Homo sapiens: one gene and its partners. The protein of the gene in region 4 purifies or fractionates together with the protein of the main gene of each other region. This does not show direct contact. Each region holds a gene or a part of one and is shown on either strand. Other genes may lie near its edges. The genes, in order: GTF2H2C, METTL14, NMI, GGPS1, VCPKMT and NCR3LG1.

Evidence for each region.
Region 1: the proteins of GGPS1 (region 4) and GTF2H2C fractionate together in Homo sapiens (co-fractionation; one large-scale study listed by BioGRID). This does not show direct contact.
Region 2: the proteins of GGPS1 (region 4) and METTL14 fractionate together in Homo sapiens (co-fractionation; one large-scale study listed by BioGRID). This does not show direct contact.
Region 3: the proteins of GGPS1 (region 4) and NMI fractionate together in Homo sapiens (co-fractionation; one large-scale study listed by BioGRID). This does not show direct contact.
Region 5: the proteins of GGPS1 (region 4) and VCPKMT fractionate together in Homo sapiens (co-fractionation; one large-scale study listed by BioGRID). This does not show direct contact.
Region 6: the proteins of GGPS1 (region 4) and NCR3LG1 purify together in Homo sapiens (affinity purification with mass spectrometry; one large-scale study listed by BioGRID and IntAct). This does not show direct contact.

Annotation. Positions count from the first base shown.
Region 1 is NC_000005.10:69,558,787-69,563,230, forward strand, and holds the start of GTF2H2C (general transcription factor IIH subunit 2-like protein), read left to right. Parts: upstream 1-1,404; 5' UTR 1,405-1,617; exon of another isoform or gene 1,618-1,815; intron 1,816-3,886; 5' UTR 3,887-3,984; intron 3,985-4,444. UniProt on the Homo sapiens protein: Component of the core-TFIIH basal transcription factor involved in nucleotide excision repair (NER) of DNA and, when complexed to CAK, in RNA transcription by RNA polymerase II.
Region 2 is NC_000004.12:118,698,637-118,702,497, reverse strand, and holds part of METTL14 (N(6)-adenosine-methyltransferase non-catalytic subunit METTL14), read right to left. Parts: intron 1,949-3,861; coding exon 1,856-1,948; intron 1-1,855. UniProt on the Homo sapiens protein: The METTL3-METTL14 heterodimer forms a N6-methyltransferase complex that methylates adenosine residues at the N(6) position of some mRNAs and regulates the circadian clock, differentiation of embryonic stem cells and cortical neurogenesis.
Region 3 is NC_000002.12:151,272,665-151,276,525, forward strand, and holds part of NMI (N-myc-interactor), read right to left. Parts: intron 3,201-3,861; coding exon 3,094-3,200; intron 3,007-3,093; coding exon 2,820-3,006; intron 1-2,819. UniProt on the Homo sapiens protein: Acts as a signaling pathway regulator involved in innate immune system response.
Region 4 is NC_000001.11:235,341,801-235,345,393, forward strand, and holds the end of GGPS1 (geranylgeranyl pyrophosphate synthase), read left to right. Parts: intron 1-210; coding exon 211-972; 3' UTR 973-2,732; downstream 2,733-3,593. UniProt on the Homo sapiens protein: Catalyzes the trans-addition of the three molecules of IPP onto DMAPP to form geranylgeranyl pyrophosphate, an important precursor of carotenoids and geranylated proteins.
Region 5 is NC_000014.9:50,110,556-50,113,634, forward strand, and holds part of VCPKMT (protein N-lysine methyltransferase METTL21D), read right to left. Parts: intron 2,958-3,079; coding exon of another isoform or gene 2,955-2,957; exon of another isoform or gene 2,165-2,954; coding exon 2,060-2,164; exon of another isoform or gene 1,531-2,059; coding exon of another isoform or gene 1,387-1,530; exon of another isoform or gene 1-1,386. UniProt on the Homo sapiens protein: Protein N-lysine methyltransferase that specifically trimethylates 'Lys-315' of VCP/p97; this modification may decrease VCP ATPase activity.
Region 6 is NC_000011.10:17,368,800-17,372,299, reverse strand, and holds part of NCR3LG1 (natural cytotoxicity triggering receptor 3 ligand 1 precursor), read right to left. Parts: intron 3,434-3,500; coding exon 3,336-3,433; intron 295-3,335; coding exon 1-294. UniProt on the Homo sapiens protein: Triggers NCR3-dependent natural killer cell activation.

The DNA of each region.
Region 1 (4,444 bases), on a different chromosome or scaffold from region 4:
TTTCTCATCTGGGGGTGCACTGCCTCTCCATTTCTCAAGTATGGGAAATGCCAGTAATTCCACTTGTGTTAATTGGCAGTCATACAACTTGTCCAAAACTGAATTGATCTTACCCACCCCGCCAACATTTTAATAATTGCAACCCCAACCTTTCAGTTGCTCAGCTAAAGACTATGGAGGTATCCTTGATTCTTTTCTCATAACACACATCCAGTGTATTGGTAAGATTTAGAATTCAGTCACTTCTCACCAGCTGCTGGTCCAAGCCATCACAATTCCCCCAAAGTTCTTAACAGTGCTCACAGCCTCTCCTCCCCACCTTACCCTTCTGATTGCAGCTTCCACCACTCATCCCCTGCTCACTCCTGCAGTCGTCAAAGACCCCAATGCACTTCTACCTCAGGGCCTTTGCACTTGCAGCTCTCTTTGTCTGAAGAGCTTTTCCCCTAGGTATCAGCAGGGTTAACACCCTTCCTCATTCAGGTCATGGCTTAACTGTCTTCCCAGCGAGGACTCCTCTGGCCACCCTATTTTATTTTTTGAGATGAAGTCTCTGTCACCCAGGCTGGAGTGCAAGGTTGGCTCACTGCAACCTGTGCCTCCTGGATTCAAGCGATTCTCCTGCCTCAGCCTCCCGAGTAGCTGGGATTACAGGCGCCTGCCAGCACGCCCGGCTAATGTTTTTGTATTTTTAGTAGAGACGGAATTCACTATGTTGGCCAGGCTGGTCTCGAAGTCCTGCCCTCCGATGATCCACCCCCGCTCGGCCTCCCAAATCACCATGCCTGGGATTACAGGCGTGAACCATCGCACCCGGCCTGGCCACCCTATTTTAAACTGCAAACTTCTCCCCTTCAGTGCTTAGTTTTTCTCCACAGCATTATCACCATTTCATATAGTATATGTTTTTCTTCATACTGACTCCCCTTGGAGAAGGAAAACTCCACGAGAGCAAGGATTTTTGTCAGTTTTTCATTGTTATTTCCTCAGTGCTTAGACATGCATCAGGCTCAAAGTAGATGCTCAATGTTTGTTGAATGAACAGCAAGAGCAATGGAGGAGTCCTGAAATACACAGCAAGAAGCAAGGATAATTCTGGCTTTACTTCTGTGGCCAGGGTCCTTCATCCCAACCTTTTAGAAGTAGAAAGACAAGATCGAGCTCCTCAGAACCCAGGTCGATGGCTGCAGAGCCTTCGACCTTCCGAGAGCGAATGGCGATCACTCTTTCCGGTTCTCTGCGAATTCCAGCTGGAACACCGTCCCTTTCCGCGCCCCAACTCAGCGGAGGCCATGCCCTGCACCTGAGCGCCCCGCTCCGGCAGCTGCACTCTGCAGCATCCGGAACGTTTCGGCGTGGCCGCAGGGCGCGGCGGAATGACTTCCGGGGCGCCCCTAAAGCGGCGGAGAGGAGTGTCGGGCTGAGTTTCCGGCTGAGAGTCCTTCTAGCGGCGCCGGTGAGTCCGCGTGTGGAAGTCTGTGAGGCGCAGAGGTGGGGCAGGCCGTCTGACTAGCTAGGCGGCTGGGAGCGTTTTCGTGGCGGGGAACGGAGGTTGAATTGCCCTGCCTGGGCTCATAGGGAAGGAGGATGTGAAGGAGCTTGTGAAGGCAGAGGAAGGTAACTTTCGTCTGGGGAGCCGCAGAGTAGGGAGGGAAGCTGCAGGCCGTCTCTCCCTAAGTAAAAGCGCGACTTTTAGAAATGATGGTTCAGGGTTCGAGTTTGTGACCCGCTTGAGAAAGTGACCAACCTCTGAGCCTGAATCCCATACCTGAAAAACAAGGACAGTAATCACCCTTGCCAGTTTCACATAGCTTGGTAAGGTGTGAAGAAAAGCTTCTTAAATTGGGATGTTTGGTGCTCTCATTTGTTGGCAGATAGCATTCCGAGCTCATGTAACGGGAATCACACCAGTAGGCTTATGCTGAGGAACGTGGATTGTTTGGGGTTGGATTCCAGGAAACAGATCACTTAAAAAAATTTTTTTTTCTTCGAGACGGAGTCTCGCCCTGTCGCCAGGCTGGAGTGCAGCGGCGCGATCTCGGCTCACTGCAACCTCCACCTCCCGGGTTCAAGCGATTCTCCTTCCTCAGCCTCCCGAGTAGCTGGAACTACAGGCGCGTGCCACCACGCCCAGCTAATTTTTGTATTTTCAGTAGAGACGGGGTTTCACCATGTTGGCTAGGATGGTCTTGATTTCTTGACCTCGTGATCCTCCCGCCTCGGCCTCCCACAGTGCTGGGATTACAGGTGTGAGCCACCCACCTGGCCTCGGTGATATTTTTAAGAAGAAAATGGACTGTTGGGAAGTGACAGGCCATTGGAGATCTTTACAAAGTCCATCTTCAGGATGCATGAATCCTTTAAACAGCATGCATGTTTACAATCAGACTTCCCATTGAACGTCTGCAGTTTTAGGGACCTTAATACCTCCTGTCCAGTCGGATTTCCCATTGCAGGCAGCTCTAATTAAGAAGTCCTTTTAGCCGGGCGTGGTGACTCATGCCTGTAATCCCAACACTTTGGAGGACCGAGGTGGGCGGACCAGTTGTGGTCAGGAATTCGAGACCAGGCCTGGCCAACAGGCTGGTGAAACCCCGTCTCTACTAAAAATAAAAAGGTTAGCTGTGGTGGCGTGTGCCTTAATCTCAGCTATTCGGGAGACAGAAGAGACAGTAGAATCGCTTGAACCCTGGAGGCGGAGGTTGCAGTGAGCCGAGATTGCGTCACTGCACTCCAAGCTTGGGCGACAGAGCAAGACTCTTGTCTCAGAAAAAAAAGAAAAAAAAGAATTCCTTTGATATGGTCAGCCAAAAGTCTCTCAGTTGCTATTTACTTTTATATTTATAATATTTATTATATATTTGTAATTATTTTATTTATTTTGAGATAGGGTCTCACTCTGTCACCCAGTCTGGAGTGCAGTAGTGAACATAGTAGCCTCGACTCTCCTGGGCTCAAGCCATCCTCCCACTTTTGCTTCCCAAGTAGCTGGGACTCAAGTACTCGCCACCTCGCCCAGCTAATTTTTTGATGTTTTGTAGAGACAAGGTTATTGCCCAGGCTGATCTGAGCGCCTGAACTCAAGCAATCCTTTTGCCTTGGCCTCTCAAAGTGCTGGGATTACAGGTTTGAGCCACTGTGCCCTGCGAAGAATTTGAGTTTAAAAACGTTGAGAACGTTATGCGAGTTTTTCATTTTTAAAGTTCACAATACGTAACAGAAAACAGGGAGGAGCAAAATGTTCAGTTGAGGCTGGGTGTGGTGACTCACGCCTGTAATCCCAGCACTTTGGGAGGCCGAGGTGAGTGGGTCACCTGAGGTCAGGAGTTCGAGACCAGCCTGGCCACCATGGCAAAACCCCATTTCTACTAAAAACACAAAAGTTAGCCAGGTGTGGTGGTGGGCTCTTGTAATCCCAGCTACTCGGGAGGCTGAGGCAGGAGGATCACTTGAACTCGGAGGCGGAGGTTGCAGTGAGCCGAGATCGCGCCATTGCACTCCAGCCTGGGTGGTGAGTGAAACTCCGCCTTAAAACAAAAAAAGAAACAAAAATATTCTGTTTACAGGCAGATCACTTGAGGTCAGGAGTTTGAGATCAGCCTGGCAAGTCAGGCGAAACCCTGGCTCTACAAAAATATAAAACATGGCAAAACCCTGACTGTACTAAAAATACAAAAATTAGCTGGGCATGGTGGCACGCGCCTGCAATCCCAGCTCCTTGGGAGGCTGAGACAGGAGAATCACTTGAACCCGGGAGGTGGAGGTTGCAGTGAGCCACGAGGTGGTGGAGTTGGGAGGGAGATTGCATTGGGGAGGATGGAGGTGTGATGAGGACATTTATTTGTGCATGAATGAATGAATGACAGAGTCTCGCTCTCTCACCCAGGCTGGAGTGCAGTGGCACAACCTTGGCTCGCTCCAGTGTCTACCTCCCAGGTTCAAGTGATTCTCCTGCCTCAGCCTCCCGAGTAGCTGGGATTACAGGTGTGCACCACTAGGCCCTGCTGATTTTTGTATTTCTAGTGGAGACGGCATTTCACTATGTTGGCCAGCCTGGTCTTGAACTCCTGACCTGAAATGATCTGCTGGCCTCGGCCTCCCAAAGTGCTGGGATTACAGGATGAGCCACCGTGCCCGTTTCTCTCTCTCTCTTTCTTTCCTTTCTTTTCTTTCTTTTTTGAGGCAGGGTCTCATTCTGTTGCCCAGGCTGGAGTGCAGTGACCTGATCTCGGCTCACTGCAGCCTCCGTGCCTCCTGGGTTCAAGCAGTCCTCTTGTCTCAGCCTCCCCAGTAGCTGGGATTACAGGGGCCCGCTCCCACCAACCTCCTAGCTAATTTTCAAACTCCTGACCTCAAGTGATCACCTGCTTTAGTCTCCCAAAGTGCTAGAATTACAGATGTCAGCCATCATACCCGGCCTGGTTTTTTTTTTTTTTTTTTTTTT
Region 2 (3,861 bases), on a different chromosome or scaffold from region 4:
AGCAGAATTTTATTTTAAAATCTCCAAAATCAAGATCAATATCTGTTCCTGTTACTAAATATTTATTTTGCACCAGGTGTCATTAACATCACTATGACCTAAATTCTACATGCCCTAATCCACTAATTTATCAAAATCTCATGAGTATTTCTCATGCTGAATTATTTTTTAAATCATTTTTCGCCGAACTCTCACCAGTATGATAAACTGCTACATTAAGTAAATAAGATAAAAACCTCCTGGATGGCTACTCAGGAGGCTGAAGCAGGAGAACTGCTTCAACTGGGAAGCAGAGTTTTGCAGGGAGCCAAGATCGCACCACTGCACTCCAGCGTGGGCGACAGAGCAAGGCTCTGCCTCAAAAAAAAAAAAAAAAAAAGATAAAAACCTTCTAATCATTTTCAATCTAATTTGGGGAATGAAAGGAAAGATCAAAGTCAGATATTAAAGTTAAAACAAAGTAAACACCAATATACCTATAAAAACATGTATGTTTCGCTCTTACTTTTCTATAGCATCTTGAAGAGCCAACACCAAAAAAATGGAGATATCCAACTGAAACACAGTTATAGTTTACCTTGGAGTTAATAAATGATGGAAGCAATGATGTTACCCAACAGCCTTACTATTTATATAAAGAATATACAGTAATTGTAGAATTTCAGAATTTGGGCACAATCTTATTTCCATATAATCATACTTATTATCTCATATAATCCTACTTAAATTTTTCAATTGTCAAATGGATACCTCCCCAAATTGGAATCATTAAATGAGATAGTTTGGTGTATAATAAATAATATGTCATAAAAACGAAGTGTCAACCAATAAAATGTGACAAAATTGAGACCCTCAAGAGTGAGTATCTTTTTGCCCAAAGTCTTACTGTTACAGCATAGCAGCTGAATTGAGAGCAAAATTAAGACTCCTGATACCTAGTCATAATACTGTTGTTATTCTTGTTTAAAACAGCATATATATTATTTTGTTCCTTTTGGTGAAGGCCAATCAGGGCCAGGGGTGGTGGCTCATGCCTGTAATCCTAACACTTTGGGAGGCTGAGGTGGGAGGATCCCTTGAGCCCAGGAGTTTGGGGCCAGCCTGGGCAACATAACAAGACCTCATCTCTACAAATACTAAAAAAATTAGCCAGGGGTGGTGGTGTGCCTGTGGTCCCAGCTATTAGGAGGCTGATGTGGGAAAACTGCTTGAGTTGAGTCCAGGAGGTCGAGGCTACAGTAAGCCACAATTGTGCCACTGCACGCCAGCCTGGGCAACAGAGTTGGTACCTTGTCTCAAAAAAACAAAAAAAAACAAAAAAAAACTCCAATAAAAAAATAAAAATAAAAAAGCTGTGAAATACAATTAAATATCAGATACTTAAAATAAGTTCAGGTATTATAACTTCTTTCTCATTCATTCATGTCTTCCATATGCTGTGTTACTTTTCCAATTTTATTTGACTTCCATTTGGATTTCAGGAGCCAATGCTCCTGAATACTTTTAGCTACTCATAGAACACTTTTTAGCTACTCATAAAGAATTGTAAATGATACCAAGCAGCTCATTTTTGAGGTATAATTTGGAGTTTCAAATCTTTAAGCTGTTCTCTTCCTGTACTTGTAATGAAGTGTCTTTTGAAAGAGCTACACATTCCTCCCTAGTGCTGGTAAACTAACTTACAAGTATTGCCTTTCTTACGTTCTTTTCTGGACATTTTTTTTTTCTCACTATTTTAGAATTATTTAAGAAACAAAGGACAAAATAACATCCACTTTCAAACATCCTATGCAACATACTGTTACATTTTTTTCTTATTAATTTAAAAATCCACTTTATAAAAGCACCATCTTACCACTCTTCCAAGGTCCAACCCCTCCCCAGAACCACACCAGAGAAAAATAAATGATCGAGGTGCTGCAATCTCATCAATTTCTAACTTCATAATCTGTAAGAAATCAAAACGATATTGCATAAAAGTATTTTGTTTCCCATTCATCCTAAATCCAAAAGAACAACAATTAAGATTTATTAGGATAGATGTGTTCTTTAAGTGTATTAGTTTCCATTAGGAACTAACAGAAAATAAATGTTATCCTTAAAATTACTCGTTCTATTGTTTTGTTACTTTATATACAAACAACATACACACCTGTGCACATATATACATATATACACTTGCTGTTATATGGAAAGAGCTTATAGGAAACAATAGCTATAGACTTATGCAATCTTTTAAGATGGAGCTTGAGACAGATTCTCCAGCAATCTTTTATCATTTACTGAAAAAGAATGAAGCACTTAACTAAGCCCAATGTTAGGGACAAAATTAAAATTAAAATATAACAATAAATGTTTCGGGAGGACTGTGATATCCAGTGTCTACAGAAGAACTTCTCAATAAATCAATATACATATTTTGCTACGATTACTACTTTGAGTCTCAAATGCCAAAAAAAAAAAAATTATTCTCTTTTGACACTAATTCTAAAAGTTAAGTGTTGGTACTTTAATGCTTGTGTTCTTAAGTAAAACACAATGACCACTACCGACTCTCTAACATGAAAAAGAATACCTGTGAAACCCAAACATTTTTCTTATTTACATTTTGTTTATTACATTAACTACTGGCACTTCCTTCAGGACGGTATCTCATAAAAGTTAAAGAACTTAGGGCTCTGGGGCCAGACAAAATTTTTCAGTATGCCAGCCAGAGTTGAAGTACAGTGAAATTAAACTGAAATCAAGAATTTGCATATAAAATAGAATTTCTTTATTTTAAAAACTGTATTAGTTTATCACATATAATTGAAGTTCTTGTACCTTCACTGCTGAAACCTCACGGATTGGCTAGAGAAAACAAAATTCTGCCTAATTATTAATAAAGAACATAATCAGATTCATTGTTTAAATTTTTTCTTTTGAGCAAACTGATAAAAAATGGTTTTTAATATTAATATTCAACTTTAATGAGGATATGGCTAACTAGACATTCTTAAACACTACTGAAAGGAATGTAAATTTATACCTATCTGGAAAACTTCTCTGCAAGAAATATCAAGAGCATTAAGTCTCTAATCTTAAGTCTTAGAAATACCACATTCTGTGCACTTTTCTGATTTTTCAACAATAAACACAGATAACACTTTAAACAGGGAAGGGGAAAAACTTTTACATTATAGGAGCCATACAAATATAAATAAAAGTGCTAGGAGTATTAAAGCTAATAGGAAAAGTTTCAAGGAAGAGGAAGAATTAGAGGTAAATCTTGGAAAAATAGATATTATTAAGAGTAGTAACTACCATTAACTCAGAAAGGGACATGCAAAGATTCTAATCCGTTTCCTAAGAAACACGTCTTCCAGTTTCAGTCCTTTCCTTGCCCCACATCTTTTCTAGAAATGCAGAACGGTCCTGATTACACTCTCCTTGAAACTCACTGTTCCCTTGGTTTCCATTACATTCATACTCTCCTGGTTCTCTTCATTCATCACTGAACAACTCGTTTTTAAATTTCTTTTATATGTAGTCTTTAAATGTAAATGTTTTCCCGGCTTTACTGTCAGTCCACATTTTTATCCTGAGACACGATCCCAGGATAAACTCATCTATTTACATGGATTTTATGTGATAATCCTCTAAAATATGTATTTTGAAACCAGATCTGCCTGTCCTTAGAGTTTCATATTTTATTCCTATGACCTCTTCCATTTGAATGTCTCACATATACCTAGAAATCAACTTGTTCAGTATTATTTAACCTCTCTAATCCTGCTCATCTTCTGAAACTCACTCTCAGTTGGTGATAATTCAATCCACCTATCCCAAGATAGAAACCCTGAGTTATCCTTAACTCTTCCC
Region 3 (3,861 bases), on a different chromosome or scaffold from region 4:
AGCAACCCAAGCATCCACCAACAGATGAACAGATCAACAAAATGGATATATAAAATACACACACACACAGAGAATATTATTCAGCCTTTAAAAAGGATGAAATTCTGATACATACCACAACATGGATGGACCCTGATAACATTATGCTAACCAAAATAAGACAGACAGGAAAAGGACAAATATTGTATAATTCCACTTGAATGAGGTACCTAGAATAGGCAAATTCATAGAGACAGAAAGTAGAATGATGGTTACCAGGGGCTGGAAGAAGAGGTAATGGAGAATTATTGTTAAATGGGTACAGAGTTTCAGTTTGGGGTGATTAAAAAGTTCTAGAGATGGATAGTGGTGATGGTTGTACAACATTGTGAATGTACTTAGTACCCTTGAATTGTACATTTAAAAATTGTTAAAATGGTAAATTTTATGTTATATATATTTTATCACAGTTAAAAAAAAAAAAAAGAGTACAGGTCCTGAGTCAAATAGACCAGCTTCAGTCCTAGCTCTGCTACTTATGAGCTATGTGGCCTTGGATATGTTGCTTGACTTCTTAAAGCCTCAGTTTCTTTTTCTGTAAAATAAGCATAATTACAGTACCTACCCTGTAGATTATTGTGATGAGTCAGTAAGACACAGTTTATGAAGTATCTGGCATATTTATCTCCAGAATACCTTCACATCCTTCAGTAGTTACCTGCTGGATAACCTATAACCTGCAGAAGTATTTTTCCCATCTGGCTAGATGTAACCTCTAGGAGAACATCCCCAGATGGCCCAAGGACACAGGTTCCAAAGCTAGTATTATCTCTCACAGTAGAGTTATAAATTGCATTCTAGTTTATTTTATTTTATTTATTTTATTTCGGTTTTTTTGAGACCGAGTCTCACTCTGTCACCCAGGCTGGAGTGCAGTGATGCAATCTCAGCTCCCTGCAACCTCCACCCCCCAGGTTCAAGCAATTCTCCTGCCTCAGCCTCCCAAGTAGTTGGGACTATAGGCGTGAGCCAGCACATCCGCTAATTTTTGTATTTTTGGTGGAGAAGGGGTCTCGCGATGTTGGCCAGGCTGGTCTTGAACTCCTGGCCTCAAGTGATCCACCCGCCTCCGCCTCCCAAAGTGCTGGGATTATAGGCATGAGCCACTGCGCCTGGCCAGATTTTTTAAAATCCAAGATATAGACAAACTAACACCAAACAGGCTAAATGAATATATGAATTTGGCAAATTAAAATCTGGATGCTTGACTATGGAAGTTTCCACCAAGTTATTGTTCATTTCCAAGACAACATATTACTGTAGCCCTCAAGACCCCTTCCTTTTATAGCTCTCCCTGACACATCCCACCAGGATGTCCTAAACATCATCCAAAAGCTCAGGTCAAAAATGCATATTGGGCCAGGAGCGGCGGCTCATGCTTGTAATCCCAGCACTTTGGGAAGCCAAGGCGGGCGTATCACTTGAAGTCAGGAGTTCGAGACCAACCTGACCAACATGGTGAAACCCCGTCTCTACCAAAAATACAAAAATTAGTCAGGCATGGTGGCATGCACTTGTAATTCCAGCTACTCGGGAGGCTGAGGTGGGAGAATTGCTTGAACCCGGGAAGCGGAGGTTGCAGTGAGCTGAGATAGTGCCACTGCACTCCAGCCCGGGCGACAGAGCAAGACTCTGTCTCACAAAAAAAAAAAAAAAAAAAAAAAAAAAAAGGATATTGACATGTTTTAATGTGCCCAGAGAAAAGCCTGGAAAGACACCCAAATAACCATAACTAACTAAATAGTAGGAGAAAGGGAAGTTTGAGGAAATGTCTCTTTTTGTTTTTTTTTGAGACGGAGTCTCACTCTGTCGCCCAAGCTGGAGTGCAGTGGCGTAGTCTCGGCTCACTGCAACCTCCACCTCCTGGGTTCAAGCTATTCTCCTGCCTGAGCCCCCCGAGTAGCTGGGATTACAGGCATGCGCCACCACACCTGGCTAATTTTTTTGTATTTTTAGTAGAGACGGGGTTTCACCATGTTAGTCAGGCTGGTCTCGAACTCCTCACCTCATGATCTGCCTGCCTCGGCCTCCCAAAGTGCTGGGATTACAGGCATGAGCCACCGGGCCCGGCCGAAATGTCTCATTTTTACTAAATGTTTGCTCTTCTGTATTATTTCACCTTCCTTAAAAAAGCATGTATTACTTTGTCATGAAAAAATCTAATCCATCAATTTTTTTTTTTAATTTTGTTTTTTGAGACAGGGTCTCACTCTGTCTCCCAGGCTGTAGTGCAGTGGTGCAATCACAGGTCACTGCAGCCTCAACCTCCTGGCCTCAAGTAATCCTCCCACCTCAGCCTCCTGAGTAGCTGGGACCACAGGCACGCACCACTATGCCTGGTGATCTCAGCTCACTGCAACCTCCACCTCCTGGGTTCAAGTGATTCTCCCTGCCTCAGCCTCCCAAGTAGCTGGGATTACAGGCACTTGCCACCATGCCTGGCTAATTTTTGTATTTTTAGTAGAGATGGGGTTTCGCCATGTTGGACAGGCTGGTCTTGAACTCCTGACCTCAAGTGATCCGCCTGCCTCCGCCTCCCAAAGTGCTGGGATTACAGGGGTGAGCCACTGCACCCTGCCTATTTGTAGCAATATTATCTTTCCTAGTACTGTCCCTGGAAATAATTTCCTACACTCTACTATTTTATAAGGTTTTTTAAAATCCCCAATTATCATGCTAATACATTCCAAATAAAAGAAGTAGAATAGGAATACTTTCAGAAACAACAGAACATGACTGAAATGGCAGAGTGTCTGTTAACCTTCTACACCCTTGAGTACCTCCAATCTCCACAAACGTGATGACTGCACTCCCGGACTGTCTGTCATAGTCCACGCGGTCCACCTCTCCGCCTCCATTTCGGGACTTTGAAAAGCTCAGCTCTAGTTTGTCTCTCATTTGATCTTCACGCAATGTGTCAGGAATTTCAGTAACATTGATTTTCATTTTAGAAACTTCTACATAAACCTGGAAAATGATTTGATGTTCAGAAATATGGATGAGAGAAGTGCTTGTGATGAACAGAAATCCAAAAAATTTTAATCATCCTGTTACCTGGAATCTGACTCCTGAATTTAATGGAACTGGCTTGGCCGTAACCTCCAGATTTACATCTTTTATCTGTACATGATGTTTACTCATGCTTACCACATTTTGAGCAACTGAAAAATAATTCAGGAAGGAAGTATTAATTTCCAATATTTTAAGAATTGTTATGCTTTTGGTTTAAGAACAAATTATCCTGAATATTTTTAATTTTCTTTAATATTAAAGGGTCTAATTTTAAAAATTTGGCGGGCGGTGATTCCAAGTGATAATGGTCTTGCTACCAAAGTAGAATATATAATTTGGGGGGTCAGGGGGAAGGAGGACCAGATCTCATTCTGTCACTGAAGCTGGAATGCAGTGATGTGATCATAGCTCACTGTAACCTCAAACTCCTGGGCTCAAGAGATCCTCCCACCTCAGCTTCCAGAATAGCTATGATTACAGGTGCATGCCACCACGCCTAGCTAATTTTTTTAACTTTTTGTAGAGACGAGCTCTCACTTTGTTACCCAGGCTGCTCTGGAACTCCTGGACTCAAGCAATCCTCCTGCATCGGACTCCCAGACAAAGTTCTGGTATTATCAGGATGAGCCACTGCTCTTGGTCCCAAAGTAGAATATATTAATGTCAAAGTATATCAGCAAAATCACAATGTAGAAGTTCTCAAGTTCTAGATTCTTCTCATAAGATGAATCTTTTCTCTTATCTCTTAAGAGATAAGCCTAACAATCTTCCAGAATTCATATATTACTTCAGCTCAGCCACATACCCTTC
Region 4 (3,593 bases):
TTAATCCCCAAGAAATTAATAGCTGTCGCATAAAAATATTCCTAGTTCTTGATTGAATTTAGTCCTCATGCAAGATATTATTTTATATTGAGGTTGCTAAATATTTATTAGTTGTGAAAATTAACACACCTGAGACTTTCATAATCTGTTAATTAAACTGAGTAAGTTTTGAATAGTTCAAATAAGTGAAATTTTCAATTTTTTTATTAGATTATTATTGAAGTGACAGAAATGTTGCATAATGCCAGTTTACTCATCGATGATATTGAAGACAACTCAAAACTCCGACGTGGCTTTCCAGTGGCCCACAGCATCTATGGAATCCCATCTGTCATCAATTCTGCCAATTACGTGTATTTCCTTGGCTTGGAGAAAGTCTTAACCCTTGATCACCCAGATGCAGTGAAGCTTTTTACCCGCCAGCTTTTGGAACTCCATCAGGGACAAGGCCTAGATATTTACTGGAGGGATAATTACACTTGTCCCACTGAAGAAGAATATAAAGCTATGGTGCTGCAGAAAACAGGTGGACTGTTTGGATTAGCAGTAGGTCTCATGCAGTTGTTCTCTGATTACAAAGAAGATTTAAAACCGCTACTTAATACACTTGGGCTCTTTTTCCAAATTAGGGATGATTATGCTAATCTACACTCCAAAGAATATAGTGAAAACAAAAGTTTTTGTGAAGATCTGACAGAGGGAAAGTTCTCATTTCCTACTATTCATGCTATTTGGTCAAGGCCTGAAAGCACCCAGGTGCAGAATATCTTGCGCCAGAGAACAGAAAACATAGATATAAAAAAATACTGTGTACATTATCTTGAGGATGTAGGTTCTTTTGAATACACTCGTAATACCCTTAAAGAGCTTGAAGCTAAAGCCTATAAACAGATTGATGCACGTGGTGGGAACCCTGAGCTAGTAGCCTTAGTAAAACACTTAAGTAAGATGTTCAAAGAAGAAAATGAATAATGTTAAGCCATTCTTGATTGGACCTCATAGCTTATTTTAGTTAATCTTTTTTTTGTCTTTTAGCCTTACCACCTTTTAAAAAATTTGTTATTCTCCAGAAACAGTAAATAGGTGAGTAGGGGTGGTGCAAGTGAATTCGTTTTCATTTAGAAGCCCCTCTGTACAGATAATCAAAATTCAAAGTTGAAAGAATCAAAAGCAGCCACAGTTATGTAGGTCTGATTTGAATGTCATAATTGCAGTGACAGGACATTGCCACCAACTCTATCCTACTACCATCAATGTTGTGTTTATTCCGTCAATAAAAAAGACTTGCTTCCAGGAATTTTTATCCATACACTTTCTAACTGTACTATCTGGGCAGTTCCAAGCCAGTTTCTATTAGCTAGCTGGACCAAAGACCACAAATCTCTTTTTTTCCTAAACGCTGCTGTAAGGAATATCTCACTTTTCCCCCCGGAAACACCCTCACTGAAGTCTTCTATGAAAAGGCTGATAATGGGCTGGGCGCGGTGGCTCACGCCTGTAATCCCAGCACTTTGGGAGGCCGAGGCGGGCAGATCACGAGGTCAGGAGATCGAGACCATCCTGACACGGTGAAACCCTGTCTCTACTAAAAATACAAAAAATTAGCTGGGCGTGGTGGTGGGCGCCTGTAGTCCCAGCTACTCGGGAGGCTGAGGCAGGAGAATGGTGTGAACCCAGGAGGCGGAGCTTGCAGTGAGCCGAGATAGTGCCTCTGCACTCCAGCCTGGGTGACAGAGCGAGACTCCGTCTCAAAAAAAAGGGCTGATAATGATAAACAGTGAGCACTCCGGTCCTTTTTCTTAGGTTTTCCTTTTTTCCTTCCTCTCCACCCCACAAGTTTTGCTTTTTAACCAAGGTGTCTCTGCTTGATGAAATTCACATGCTAGTCTAAATCTTTTTTTCTCCCTTGTAACATTTATGTGCCCCAAACTGGTTAGTATATGGGTACAGCATTCCCTTTCCAATTGGGAAGCGGAAAAAGAGAGTATGGGATATTTTAGAAGGGAGCCTTTGAACCTTATTATATTTCCCCATCATTGATAGTGACAATCTTAAAAGGGTTGTTTTCTTACCTTAAGTACAAAAGCATGGAAAAATGCGCTTTTCCTTCCCGCCCACATCACCACCCCGACTTGAAGACAGTAGGTGCTTGAATGGAAAGTGAGTAGGCATCTTTAATCGCCCTGATTAAAGGAAAGTGTTAGCCTGAGAGGGCCTGACTGAAAAGTAACCAAAGGCTTAATATCAAACACTAATTAGCTTTTTAGTGCCTTAACCCTGACCTGGTTACCAGTTTTCTGTAGTTTCTACACCCAAGCCACTGAAGTCATCTGTGGCCCAAGAGGTAGGACAAAAAAAAAAAAAAAAAAAGCTGATTTCAATATTTGATTTGTTGACATCCCAAAATGAAAGTTTTATGTTTCCCTTAGAAACATGTTTTGCTTGGTTCTATAGTATGTTACTTAGGATCTATTTACCATATATTTGTATGAGAAATCCTCACCCAAGCATTCAACCTAAATCTTTGAAAAGTTGGGTGCTGTCTTTAGTAACTTTTAAAATAGTTTAAATCTCCCATTTTAATAGTGATAAGGAAACCTGTTAAAATCATGGCTATTGATGTTATAGTATGGAAAGTTGAACTTTATGAACCCATACTTTTAAAAAGCATTTTTAAAAATCTAACACTGACTATAGAAACAAATTAAAATGTCTACCTTTAAGTATAAAAATTGCTTAAGTAGATTTGTTCCTTGCCTATCAAATTAATTTTGGCCTGGTGTTCTTCATTATTCATTTGTTAATTTTATCTTGCCTTTGTCAATAACAGAAATGTTTGTCATTGAATTGGGAATTTTTTTTTTTTTTTTTGAGACGGAGTTTCACTCTTGTTGCCCAGGCTGGAGTGCAATGGCGTGATCTCAGCTCACTGCAACCTCCACCTCCCGGGTTCAAGCGATTCTCCTGCCTCAGCCTCCTAAGTAGCTGGGATTACAGATGCCTGCCATGTTGCCTGGCTAATTTTTTTTTTTTTTTTTTTTTTAAGTAGAGATGGGGTTTCACCATGTTGGCCAGGCTGGTGTTGAACTTCTGACCTCAGGTGATCCAGCTGCCTCGGCCTCCCAAAGTACTGGGATTACAGGCATGAGCCACCGCACCCAGCCAAATTGGGGACTTTTAACAGTCATTTTACCTGTAGAATAATCAAAACTCTTCACTTGATCTGTAGTCATAGCTATTAACACAGAAAAATGAATGCCAGTTATGTTGCCATAAACCACCTTCTGAACTTGGCAAGATCTTAAAACCATCAACTGTTCTCTGTTCACTCTGTGAACTTCTTTCTACTTTACTTCCTTCTCTACCTCACCTGTACTCTATAGTCACTCACTTCAATGACACTTAAAGAGCATTCACTCTCAGATCACTTTTCTCCTTTCCTTGCCCATTCTTATCTTGCCAACTCCCAGTCCTGGATAAATCCAAACATCCACGTTCTTTGTGCATCCGTGTTGCTCAGTGCTGCTGGGGAACATTTTCACAACTGCTGTTGGAACCATTGTGAGTTTACACATTCCAGCCTCTGCAACGCC
Region 5 (3,079 bases), on a different chromosome or scaffold from region 4:
AAAATGTGGAGAAAACTGGAACCCTTATACACTGCTAGTGAGAACGTATAATGGTATGGTAGATTAGGAACACAGTTTGGCAAGTCTTCAAAAAGTTAAACAGAGTTCCCATATAACCTTGCAGTTCTCCTCTAGGTATATACTCAAGAGGTCTGAAAACATGTTCACACAAAAATTTGTAGATGAACGTCCATAGCAGCATTATTCATCTCATCAATGGATGGATAAGGTGTGGTACAGCCACATAAAGGAATATTATTCAGCCACAAAAAGGAGTTAAGTGCTAATGTGTGCTACAATGTAGATAAGGCTCGAGAATACTGTGCTGAGTGAAAGAAGACAGTCACAAGAGGCCACACAGTATGTGACTTGTTACATATGACATGTGCAGAATAGGCAAATCCATAGAGATTAGTGGCTGCCAGCAGCTGGGGACGGGGGTAACAGGGAGTGACTGCTAATGGGTAAGAGGCTTCTCTGGGGGGTGAAATCATTAAAAATTAGAAAGTGGTAATTTACACAACTATGTGAATATACTAAAAACCACCAAATTGTACACCTTAAAAGCGTGAATTTTATGGTATGTGAGTTACATCAACTAAAAAATAAGAGTTTTTTTTTTTGGCCGAAAAAAAAAAAAAAGCCTCTATATTTAGGAAACACAAAATCTTTCTGCCTCCAAAAAATTCTACTTTTAAAACTGCACAACAGCTTCAGTTAACACTAGATCCCTTAAAGCACAAAACAGTTTTTTTTGTATCTGTGGCACCATGCCACATAAATGTTAATCTGAATAATCCCGCTGCTGCCTTTTTACTTAGATTTAGTCCTAACACCTACTTCTGTTCCCTAAGTTTTATTTGCTTTTGACTAGAATTCATATAATCAGAAAACTTTACCACAAACATAATCAAAGCAAAGATGATAGAAAAAGTGTGGGCTTATTGAATCTAGCATCCTTAATTCATAAAACTAATCATCTCCCTGCCTTACACTAGTCACATATACCAAAGGTGCTGGAAATACAAAAATAGATGAAAGGCCAGGCGCAGCAGCTCACACCTGTAATCCCAACAATTTGGGAGGCCGAGGTGGGCAGGTCACTGGAGTCCAGGAGTGCAAAATCAGCCTGGACAACATGGCAAAACCCTGTCTCAACAACAACAAAAAAAATACAAAAATTAGCTGGGCATGGTGGTGCATGCCTATGGTCCCAGGTACTCAGGAGGCTGAGGTGGGAGGATCACTTCTTGAGCCTGCAAGGCAGAGGCTGCAGCAAGCCGAGATTGCACCACTGTACTCCAGCCTGGATGACAGAGTGAGACCCTATTTCAAAAAAAAAAAAGGATGAAGTACAATTCTTCCCTCTTTCTACAGGCTCAAACCCTAGGTGTCACTGAGGCAACCTGCATAAAATGTGATTGTTATACAGGGTAAAACATGCACCAAGAAGCGGGAAAATACATAAATTCTACTTAATTGAGTGCATTTATCTTTTATGGACTCATCTGCCTTGTTGTATTTCATTTCCTGTAAACAATTTTTAATAAGGAAAAGTTCACAAAGGTAAGAGCAGGCATTTTAAAATCTCACAGAGATAAAAGAAACTTATAAATAGCTAATAACTTGTCTGAGGTAATACCCAATTATAGAGCTATACAATTTACGCCTATGGAGAAGCTGGAAAAGGCCTTTAAAAGCGAAGCCTGGCCAGGTATGGTGGCTGATGCCTGTAATCTCAGAACTTTGGGAGGCCGAAGTGGGCGGATCACTTGAGCCCAGGAGTTCGACACCAGTCTAGGCAACACGGTGAAACGTGTCTCTACTTAAAAAATACGAGAAAAAAAAAAAAAAAAAAAAAAAAAGCCTGGCTTTAGAGCAAAAACCCAAGGCAAGATAGATTAAATTATCTTGACAATGAAGTTACTGCCTGAGTCCAGTGAATCATTAGAGCTGTTTCTCCACATCAAAATCAACGCCCATACCACACATATGCCCTGAAATAGTGTCCAGCTGATGAAACCTCCTTGGAGAATGAAGAACTGAGAATGTTATTTACCGATTTTTTCTTTCTGATGTATATAATATGAATATCTTCACTTCGATACTCTTCATCATGTTTTTCCAAAGGAATTTTTTCAAAGTCAAAATCTAGCTGAAGGAGCTATAAATTTAAAAGAGACATACTTCAAATTCAATAATATGAACTGACCTGTGGGTGACAGAAGTCAGAATGCTGGTTACTTTTTTTTTGAGAGTCTCACTCTGTCACCCAGGCTGGAGTGCAGTGGTGCGATCTTGGCTCACTGCAACCTCCACCTCCCTGGGTTCAAGTGATTCTCCTGCCTCAGCCTCCTGAGTAGCTGGGATTACAGGCAAACGACACCACACCCAGCTAATTTTTGTATTTTTAGTAAAGAAAGGGTTTCACCATGTTGACCAGGCTGGTCTCGAACTCCTGACCTCATGATCTGCCCATCTCGGCCTCCCAAAGTGCTGGGATTACAGGCGTGAGCCACCGCGCCTGGTCAGTGGTTACCTTTTGAGTATTGCCTGGGAAAGGGCAGTGTGCAAACCTTCCAAGATCCTGAAAATGTCCTCTATCTTTATGTTGGTAAGTAGTTACTTGGGTGTATACATATGAAAAATTAAGCTCAGCACTTGACTGATACATATGCATTTTACATATGCTTTACCCCAATAAAAGCTGTTTAACAGTACGAAATTTTCATTATGCATCATTTCAAAAGTTCATGAACATTTTTCATATTCAAGAAAAACATGAAAATAAACAAACATTTTAGTATTTGTTACCTGAGGCAGTCATATACCTGCTTTCTCATTAAACCAAAGTAGTCCTTCCAGCAGACAAAACTGCAGGCCTATATAGATGTACCCTCAAAAGGAGTCACTCACAATGTGATAGATTTGTGCCCATATAAGGGTTTGGGTGATCACTAGGGGAAGAAGAGTGACAGATACATAAAACCCTATATACTATATTTTGCAACTTCCTGTAAGTCTTTTCTAACTATTTCAGACAAAAAGTTTAAAAAACAAAAAAAAAGACCCTAAAAAT
Region 6 (3,500 bases), on a different chromosome or scaffold from region 4:
TCTACAACACTGACAAAGATCTGGGTTGTCTCGCAAGGCAAAGAAGGCTTGCACATAAGGAACCTCGGACCATTTGCCCTCCTGTCTGCAGAAAACATCTAGTTGTTGAATAGTATTAATATTAACACTTCCCTCAGGAGGCCAAGCCTCCCCATCCTGCAGCTGGTAAGACGGCCATGCCCGAGTGCAAAAGAATATGAGGTGCTCTTTCTTCAGAGTCTGAGTGTCAAAGGAGTTCCAGTGTTTCAGAATGCACTTGAGAGGAGTATAGGCTGAAGATGATTTGTTACATATCTAGAAAAAGAGGAGAGAAAAGGCATCCCTTAGTCTCCTTTGTCCTTCTGGAGTGATCGACAGCAGAGAGAAAAATGGAAGGGGCGTCCCCCTTCTCCTCTTCCCTCCCATTTCCTCAGGTTCCTGGTGACCATTATAGGTGCTGCCCATGGATCAAAGCATGACCTTCACCCATGAATCCGGAGGAGCTAGCTTGTGCTCACCTGCACAAGGTCCTAGCTCTCTGCCCTGCTGGTTTCCTAGACCTACTTGGCCCATAAGGCTCCTGAGATTCCCTAGAACCATGGGAGAGATTGTGCAGTAGTTGGATTGGGGCAAGACCCTTTAAGGAAGGGAACATCTTAACTCTATCCTTACATCCTCTTACTACCACCCTGGCAAAGTTATGAATTCCTAGAGAATGAGACTGATTGATTTCTAAACACAAGATCCCTTTCTCACTTAGATGCCAGTGTAGCTGTGTACAGAACAGATGCCTCAAAAGAATGTAAAAATTGAATGGCTGTTCTCCCTCCAATGGGGATAACACTGAGGCTAAAATATGTCTTCCCAGGGTAGCTTCTTCCTGGCTGTTGAAAGAGGAGTTTTTATGCTTACAAATAGGGCATGGGGCCTGATCACTGAAAGAGGGACATAAGAGAGAAAGGAATCAGGGAACTAGAGGTTTTGGGCAAAGGGCTGACAAGGCTTCTCACAGAGAAAAATCCCATCCCACTAGGTAGCACTATAGGGTTTGAAATGTTAGGAAAAAACTCTGACTACAAATTCTTTCCAAGCAGAGGTCAGAAAGGGAGGTTTGGGGCTTAATAGGCTGTCCCCATAATATGCTGTCCAGTAGAAAAAAAACTAGTTTGTCTCATAGAGGGAATGCTTAAATTCATTGGGCAATGCTGAGCTCTTACATGAAGGAAAAACAACCTGATGGAGAAAAGGGTATTCACTTGGGGTGAAACATCCCCCTATAGAGTGCCATGAATGTCTATCACTGGGGGACAAAAAGGCCCTAAGTGAAAATTTAGGCTGAAATCTTGAAGTCCCCCTGTCTCAAGGAAATCACAAAAACAACAATTATTTGAGTTACATTCCTCGTTACTAAGGCACTTGCTGACTTTGCTTAACAGGATTATCTCCCCAGGCTATAAAGACACCCACAACATTGCATACAAAGAAGGAATAGGAGACATAGTAGCTGCGAAAAGCAAGGAAGAAAATGCAATAGAAAAGTCTGGAAGTCCTGGTGCCAACATTCTGACGGGCTGTCGGGGGCTGGAGTTAGTCCAGGGACCTTCAGGTAACACTGAGGAGTAGCCTCAAACAGAAACCTTCAGTTGCCCCAGGACCTCCTTCTAGCCCATGTGACAGCTAAGTCCTCTGTGAAAGGAAACTGGATTAGAACAGAGCCAACATTCCCAACACCTGAGGGTGAAGGGGGACTGACAAAGTCCTCTCCAGCAAGCCTGTATCTTAAGTCTCATAAGGTTGGCAGCCGCTCTAAAAGCTTTTAACTGGCCCAGTGTTTTGTTCAGTCTTCAGGAAAAAATCTGAGGACAAGAAGCCTCTGAAATGAAAGTAAAGAGTTTGGAGGTCCGCTCCTACTCACCCTTCCAATGTTTCCTGGCCAATGCACCAAAATGTTAGTCTCGTCAATGCACCACAATGTAGCAGTCTCTCATTGCCCAAGGTATCACCTGAAGTTCTTTGTCTCATGACCAAGAAAATTAAGGAGCGCGGACCCCAAAGATGAAGTTGAAGTGAAAGTTTAATAAGCAAAAGAAGAAAGCACTCCACTGCAGAGAGGGGGCCCAAAAGAGGGTTGCCATTTCACAGCTGAATACAAAGGCATAAGGCACACATTTCTGGTAGCTCCACCCCATCCTCGTAGTGTGCATGCAAGCCCTTAGCTTGAGTTACTCCATGTGGCTTTGTTCCCCTTACTGTGCATGTGTCAGGGGATGGAATTTTCTATTGTGAGCATGTCTAGGCAAGTCTCCTGTGTAGCCTTGTTTTAATGTATGTGGCTGTGGGCATGTTTTAGGCAAGCCCCCCTGTACAAGTTCCCTTATCTGCAGTTTGATTTTTCAGGCTGTTCTTTTGTTTGAAGGAATTTGACTGAGGGCCCACCCTAACTGCCTGCCTGACTAGTTTCTTCCTTCCTCCTCTCTCAATAGCACCTGAATATCAGAACCAGAGAAAGGCAAGAAATATGACAACAGTCACAAATACCACAAGAAACATTTGAAAACCACTTTTTATCCAGTTTTCTCATGGCCTAGATCCAACAGGAATAAGTCCCGTGAATCTAAATGGCCAACTTTAGATAAAGGGCCATTTTTCTTAATTGACTGATTATTCCACTTCTCCTAAATTATTTATAATGAGATGTACTGGCTGTTGTGCAGATTTTGCCTTGACAGGCCCATAAATAATTGAGGGCCCTTTTATTATCTAAAACTATTTTAACCAACACATTTACATAGGTCTCTTGGGCCTCTAAAGCTTGAGCTGTTTTATTTACTATTTGGGCCATAGTCAGGGATAAAAATGTTTAGAAACATGTTTTAGTTTAGAAATACCTAGTGAGGGTTAGAAATTCTTAGTCAAACTAGTGAGATCTGGTGGTCAGTTATTGATCAGATAAAATATGAGGAATTCCCCTCTCTAAGCCATAGTTTCTAAATGTGTGAGAAAAACAAGCAGTCCACACATAGTTCAGGGCCTGGTCTGAACACTAAAGTCTGGTTCATTCACAGAGATATAATACTTGTTTAGTATGGAGAAAGAGAGGGAGGCTTTACAACACATCACCCCAGAGTCACAAACCACCATACAGAGGTCAGATGGTATGTGACAGCTAGGTCCTCTGTGATAGGAAACTGGATTGGAACACAGCCAACATTCCCAACACCTGATGGTGAAGAGGGACTGACAAAGTCCTTTCCAGCAGGCCTGTCCCTTGAGGCTTGTAAGGTTGGCAGCAGCTGCTCTAAAAGCTTTTTACTAGCCCAAGACACAGGGCTGAACTTTGCTTTGGAGCCCCTTACCTTTTTCCAAGGAATCAAAACAATTAATAAAACCAGTCCAACACCAATGAATGAAATAGGCCACCAATGAATGGAAAAATTATCTGTCTTCTCAGTTTCTGCAGAGAGAGAAGGAAAACATTAGCAGGAAACCTACTGGCAAGGGCCAGAGAAACCACACAACTG